Linked DNA regions of Homo sapiens. The protein of the gene in region 1 purifies or fractionates together with the protein of each later gene. This does not show direct contact. Each region holds a gene or a part of one and is shown on either strand. Other genes may lie near its edges.

Region 1 (3,500 bases):
TATTTTTTGGACCATTTATTAGTTCTTAAGATGGTAATGCCAGGCTTAATTTTTGTAGTAGATGGAAAATATTAATTTGTTTTTTTGGGCACTTGTTTTCCTCTTCTGAAAGAAATAAAGAAAAGAAAGAGAGAAAAGAAAGAAAGAGAAAGAGAGACAAAGAGAAAGAAAGGAAGGAAGGAAAGGAAGGAAGACAAGAAAAGAAAAAGAGAGAAAGAGAAGAAGAGGGAGGGAAGGAAGGAGGGAGGAAGGGAGGGAGGGAGGAAGGAAGGAAGGAAGGAAGGGAAAGAGAGGGAACGGGAGGCCAGGTGAGGCTTTTTTCTCCCTCTTTCAGGGGATCGTGAAAATTTTTATTTGTCATTTATTTTTGTTTACCTATTACTCTACTGTCTCTTTATACTTTAACATTGGATGAGATCGTCTAAGTGAACTAGTCCAGTGTCCCATCCGATGTTGAATGAATCTCTTCTGCCTTGTCTCACCAGTTTGCACACTCCTGAGCCAGGGAGCTTACACCCTTCTCAGGCAGTCCATTGCATCTTTGCTCGGCTTTCTCTCTCGGAGCTCTTGCTCCCTCGTGAACAGTACCAGGTGAATGCTTTTTATCAGCTGCAGGGCCACCATTGCAGATATAGGGGGCTACCACCCACATGCAATTTAGTACTGTTGAATTACATGGTATATTCATGATGTCTTTCATGTAAATAGCACCCCTATGGTCGCAGCCATGCTCTGGTGAGGCTCAGAACACAGAATTTTTTCTAGAAGAACAATAGAGCAAGGAAGAGAACCATAGAGCAGCTTCCTCCCAGGACCACAGGGGAGGATGGGCCACACAGCTCCCAAGGTTGCCTCTGCCCACCGCACTTTTGCATCCTGGTGACTGTCTTACACAGCCAAAAGGCACTGTGCTGGCAGATCTGAGTTCAAGCCCTGGCTCTGCCTCTGTTTTGCCTTGTGACCTTAGAAAAGTCTAGTCCTTCATACCCTAAACCAGGGGTTGACAAATCTTTTCTGCAGAGGTGCAGACAGTAAATATTTTGGGCTTTTCAGGCTATATAGTTTTTGTTGCAACCACTTAACTCTGCCATTGCAGTACAAAAGCAGCCTAAAGGAATGTGCATGACTGTCACCCAGAAAACATCATTTACAAAAACAGGTGGCAGGCCAGATTAAGCTCACAGGCTGCATACTTTGACAGTCCTTGTCCTAAGCTGTAAAAGAGAAATGACAATACCATCCCTGGCTATCTCATAAGACCATTATGATGATCAAATTAGTTTTCTTTGAAATCTATCAAGTGCTATACAAATGTCAGTTATTTTCTGTAAGTAATATTTTTTGTCAATCACAGTGCTAAATCCTTAACTTAGCAAAATGTGAACCGCAAAGACACTCTAGGAGAAAACTGAAATTTAGAGACAATATCAGTTAGGATGCTTACAAGAGCACGTAATAGAAAACTAGCTTAAATAATACAGGATTTTATTAGTCCATGTGACTGCAAAGTTCAGAGGTGGGAGAGAATTCAAGGCATGTTTGATCAAGGGCTCAAAACAAAACAAAACAAAACAAAACAACATTTCTTCCCATCTCTCACCCTGCCTTCCATGGCATTAGCCACATCCTATGGCTGGCTTCTCTTGTAGTCACAGCCTGGTTGCTATCCTTGAGCTAATGGCCAGAGAGAGAGAGAGATCTTCTCAGCATTCATAGCAGAAGTCTTGAGATTTATTCTGATTGGACTGGCTTAGATCACGTGCCCACCCGTGAGCCAAATCCTCTAGCTCTGTAAAGAAGGAATGTGCCAATTGGCTTAAGGCAGTCAAGGCCCACCCCTGGGAATGAGATCAGCTTGCCACATGGCACATGTGCAGCCTGGGGAAGAGTAGACACTGAGGTGAAAACCATGCTGTTTTTAGGGAAGGGGAGTATTGCAGGGGGTGGTAACAATAAATGTTCACCGCAGAGAACGAAGCCCCTGAGTTATGCCACCTTCCTTGTCCTAAGAAACTGCACAGAACTTTCTATCCCACTGTAAGCTGTCCAAGCTTTTCAAACTGACATTTCCTGTTTAAGAAAAGGCCAATTTGAGCTCACTGTCAAATACCTCAGTGTATTTAAAGTATATATGTACCTTCCTTTTACACAATCAATATGTTTTCCAAAAGTGCTTATGAATTAAAAATTTGTAACTCATATAATAAATATACTGGAAGACTCAGTATTTTTTTTAAATAGCAAAATTTCTGTAAAGCAAAGAATCTTATAGCAAAAGTAGTATTTCTTCCAAATTGTCCTAATCTATCTGTAGTAATGAGTTCTGTTTCTTACAATCATGTTTTAAATGCTTGGATATTGACAAATTTCCAGACAACCAATACTCCATGGATTTTAAAAGGTCTAAGTGGTTCTTGACAGGTGGCCTCTAGACCAGCAGCATCAGAATCCCTTGGTGACTTGTTGGAAATGCATGTTCTCAGACCCCGTCACAGATGAGGGTGGGGGCCCAGCAAGCTCTGGTGTAACAAAGTTGCCAGGTGATTCCGATGCAAGTTCAAGAACCACTCATTACACTAATGAAATAATACAGGAATAGGAATTGGAGAAGGTTATCTATCTAAAGCCCAGTCTTTTAACCCCTAAAATTCTTGAAATAATTTGTCCTTTTGTCCCTTTGAATGCTTCCTGTCTTATGTATACAAAGTATTTCTTTTTCAATAAATTGATCTCTCTTCAGTTTATAGAATGAAGGGCAGGCTATCTGTAAGTGAGGATTGTACTTTTTTTTGACTTGCTGTATAGTTCTCCAATTTGTGAAATCATCAAATTAAGTGAAAATAACATAAAAACTCCCTCAATGTTTTCATCCATGTTTAATGCCTCTAAACAAACTGAAACATTTTACCAGTTATCAGAGATTAACTCATTAAATATCTACTTTTAATTCCCTGAAAGTAAAGTATATTTGGGTCTTTTGCAGAAGAAAGAGCATATGAGAATACACCATGAATATTGTTTTGCTCTCAAGTTAGTAGTGTTGTTGGCAAGAAGAGAATCTTTGGGATTTCTTTGGCACTAGAAGTAGAGGAAGCCCATTTGGACAGATTATGTTCAATAGGAATGTTGTTAGAATTCACATAAGCAACCACAACTTTCATACTGAAAAGCTCATTTCCAATATGTTCTTTGAAGCTTAAATGTGACCATTTGTCTTGAGTATAACATTTAAACCTTGAGAGTGCTGATTTCTCCATTGTTTTGTAAAGTTACACCCAGGAGGTTTATGTTTAAAGTTCTTGCAAAAGGCATGTTGCAAAATTAAAAAACAGAAATTAATGTGTATATATTTTTTATTTCAAAGATCTTTATGAATACACTAAGATATCTGCAAACTCATGAATATCTCCTAGATGTGGATTTATGGAGACTTTTTGCAAACCTGGAGGAGTTAACTCAGGTGAGCCAAGTAGGAAGATTCATGTTTTAACATTCACTAG
Region 2 (3,947 bases), on another chromosome or scaffold:
TCTATCTATCTATCTATCTATCTGTCTTGAGAGGGACTCTCTGTCACCCAGGCTAAAGTGCTGGAGGGCAATGGCGTGATCTATAGGCTCACTGCAATCTCCGCCTCCTGGGTTCAAGCAATTCTTCCGCCTCAGCCTCCCCAGTAGCTAGGATTACAGGCATTGGCCACCACACCTGGCTATTTTTAGTAGAGACGGGGTTTCTTCATGTTGTCCAGGCTGTTCTAGAACTCCTGGCCTCAAGCGATCTTCCCGCCTAGGCTTCCCAAAATGTTGGGATTGCAGGCGTGAGCCACCACGCCCAGCCCACCACGCCTGTTAATAAGCTATACCCTCACGGACCTGTCATTGGCATTAAATTTGATAATACATTAGAGTATTGTATATGAAGTATACGAAGGCCTGTGCTGAGTGTTCAAGAAGTCAGTCAGTATTATTCTACTTATATTAATAAATGAACTGATGAAATGACAATGGCGAGATCTCGATCTTCAACAATAAGGGAGATGGAAACTGAAGCAAGAAGTGGTCTACAAACCTAGCTCAAATTGTTGAGATTACCGGCCGTGCCCCTTATTCAGATCAACCCCTCCTCGGCTGATCGCCGGCGCGAGCCAGCCTAGGCTCCCGGAAGGTAAACACATCGCCAAGGGCTGGGCAGAAGGCGGGTGTGGGACGGGTGAGTGGCCAGCTAAAAGTGATTGGCAGCTGCCATGTCCACGTGCTCCGAGCTTGGAACCAGCTGTCGCGAGAATTCGATGTAAACAGACCAGTCTCCCTGTCCTCCGGCTCCAACCTGAAACGCTCACGTGAGCGGGACAGGAGTCTGGATCATGTTGCTTTTCTTTTCAAAGCCACGAAGGTTCTGTCTTCCAAAAAAAATGTACATGTTCGTAATTATTCCCCAGCTGCCTGCGTTTGCAACCGAACCTGACACCTCGGCTTCACCCGAACTTACATGCTGTTGTGTTTTCCCTCCAGCCCCAGCGGATTGGACACATTCAGAAGGCGGGTCCGCCTCTTTCCTACTTGCTGGTTGGCGAAGCTGACCTCCAAGGGCGGTGCCCGGCCATAGCCGGTTTGCTTCTGGGATTGGCTAGAGGGGGTGGTTCCGCTGAGGCGTGGTAGGAAGTGGCTGCCGTCAATCACTCGGGGAGACTCCAAACAGTGAGCCTAGAGCTGGAGACTAGCGTTAACCGGCGGGGCGGCCGGTGAGAGGGCTGGCAGGGCTTTGGCTTTGGGGAGGCTTGGGGAGGACGAGGGACTGGCGGCGTGAGGGGACTGGGTCGGGCTGGCAGGAATTCGACAGGAGAGAGGTGTCGATACTGGAGGGGGAGGGGAACAGTGCAAGGGGCCGGAGGGCGGCCGGGGGCAGCGGTGGCTCCGTGTTGGAGGTTAAGTGGGCAGCGCCGTACGAGTGTCTTTCAGGAGACTGGGGCCTGAGTGGCTGGCGAGGGTCGTCCCCAGGAGACAGGGCCCTTAAAGGGCAGGGCTTGGGAGACTGTGGTTCGAGAAAGCAAGAATGGGATGAGAATGAGAGGGCTGAGGGGCTGGAGGTGCAGGTATCCTCTGAGGAGGTGGTGGCTCTGCTCCTTGGGGCAGAGGGTGTTTTGGTTGTAGGAGGTGGGGCGCACAGGTTTAGAGTTTTCACATCAGGTGTGAATGCTCCCTACTTAAAAATGGTTTTCGGTGCCTTCAAGATGAGTTCCAGGTTGTGGGCTTCCCTGAGCCCTGTAAGAGATCTTTGATATTGCTGTCAGTCCTCTTTTAACCTTAACCAAGCCGACTCCATGCTCTTAAAATCTCAGTGATTCAGAGGGTCATGAAACATTCTAGGATCAGGATTTACTGATGTGACGGGAAAGGGTAAAGGGCTGTAACAACGTATTAGTTTATGTTAGTTATTTGACTACTTGCTACTAGTCAAATAATTACTTGACTTATTTGTTATAGTAGCAGGGGGTTACGAATGTGATTTAAATTGTGATTTACTCATAGATTCCCAACAGGTTTAATTGGAAGGTAGAGTGATATCATGTCACTTGTTCCGTTTGGTCTTGAAATATTGTACCATGTGTATTTTCACTATCTCAACATAAAATTGCAGTAAATTCCCATCCCATGATCTGGTTCTCTCACCCTTGTAATTTATGTTAACAACAGACCAAGGGGTACAGCAGGAGTCTTCCTTACATTGTTTTGTGGTTCTGAGACCTGGTCCTATTAAAAAACAAAACAGGATGGGCGCGGTGGCTCAAGCCTATAATCCCAGCACTTTGGGAGGCTAAGGCGGATGGATTGCTTGAGCTCAGGAGTTCGAGACCAGCCTTGGCAACATGGTGAAACCCCGTCGCTACAAAAAAATATAAAATTTAGCTCGGCATGGTGGCGCTCGCCTGTAATCCCAGCTACTCAGGAGGCTGAGGCAGGAGAATTGCTTGAGCCTGGGAGGCGGAGATTGCCATGAGCAGAGATCGTGCCACTGAACTCCAGCCTGGGCGACAGAGCGAGACTCTATCTCAAAAATAATAATAACCCCCCAAACCCCTCATTATAATTTGAAAAAAATTAAAAACCTACTTCCTCCTTTTTTCCCTTTCTGGTGTAACAGGAATTTCTGGGAAAGTTTCCTACATTTGAGGCATTTTTGACAAGGGATCTCTAGTGAGTAATCATAAATCTTCCTCCCTACCCCCAACAACGATCCATGTTTTTCTGTTTTTTGTTTGTTTGTTTGTTCTGGAAACAGGTTTTATGAATGAAGCTATGGCTACAGATTCCCCAAGAAGACCCAGTCGTTGTACTGGTGGAGTTGTGGTTCGCCCCCAGGCTGTCACGTAAGCACATTTCAGATAAACCCAATAGCTGAAGAAAAGATTACTCAGAATACTAACATTTAGGTTTTCTTTATGAACAGTGGTTACTTTTGTAAAAATCTTTTAACTGTTGGCTTTATGGGATGAATAATAATAATTGCCAAGACCAAATGAAGAATTGGAGAGTTAAGTTGACGTATTCAGCACATTTACAGAGTACGTGAAGAGCACTATGCTAAATCCTGAAGAGCAGTGTTTTCAAACTCCAGGTTTAACAAATTAGTGGATTGTTAAATCAGTTTAGTGGGTCAGGAGTTGTAGTAGAAAATGAAATAGAGGCCGGGCGCAGTGGCTCATGCCTGTAATCCCAGCACTTTGGGAGGCCCAGGCAGGCGGATCACGAGATCAGGAGATCGAGACCATCCTGGCTAAAACGGTGAAACCCTGTCTCTACTAAAAATACAAAAAATTAGCCGGGTATGGTGGCCCCTGTAGTCCCAGCTACTCGGGAGGCTGAGTCAGGAGAATGACGTGAACCTGGGAGGTGGAACTTGCAGTGAGCTGAGATCGCGCCACTGCACCCTAGCCTGGGCGACACAGCAAGACTCTGTCTCCAAAAAAAAAAAAAAAAAGAAAGAAAATGAAATAGAATATAATAGAAAATTAGAAAATATAGCTGAGAGTTTGTATTGTTTCATGACATGCACATAAATATGTTCATGTGTATGTATATATTTACCAGACAGTGATGTAAAATGTATCTCTTTTAACTTTTAAGTTCAAGGGTACATGTGCAGGTTTGTTATATAGGGAAACTCATGTCACAGGGGTTTGTTGTACAGATTATTTCATCACCCAGGTATTAAGCATAGTCCCCATTAGTTATTTTTCCTGACCCTCTCCCCGCTCCCACCCAACTCTGATAGGCACCAGTGTGTGGTGTTCCCGTCTATGTATCCATGTGTTATCTATAAAAGGAATCTCTTAGTCTAGGTCTCTGTCAGAAAGTTTCAAAGTAAGTGTCATAGTATATGTCTCTGTTTTTGGCATTCTTTGACAAAGAATGTCTATACTTACTAGAGTGAGTTTATAATCTAATATGGTTTGAAGATATGTATACTTTTTTTTTTT

What was found. Proteins that work in one complex are often made in the same cells at the same time.
Region 2: the proteins of PLEKHG7 (region 1) and BCAS3 purify together in Homo sapiens (affinity purification with mass spectrometry; one large-scale study listed by BioGRID and IntAct). This does not show direct contact.

Annotation. Positions count from the first base shown.
Region 1 is NC_000012.12:92,737,489-92,740,988, forward strand, and holds part of PLEKHG7 (pleckstrin homology domain-containing family G member 7), read left to right. Parts: coding exon 1-33; intron 34-3,364; coding exon 3,365-3,460; intron 3,461-3,500.
Region 2 is NC_000017.11:60,676,704-60,680,650, forward strand, and holds the start of BCAS3 (BCAS3 microtubule associated cell migration factor), read left to right. Parts: upstream 1-1,147; 5' UTR 1,148-1,211; intron 1,212-2,749; 5' UTR 2,750-2,754; coding exon 2,755-2,837; intron 2,838-3,947. UniProt on the Homo sapiens protein: Plays a role in angiogenesis. Participates in the regulation of cell polarity and directional endothelial cell migration by mediating both the activation and recruitment of CDC42 and the reorganization of the actin cytoskeleton at the cell leading edge.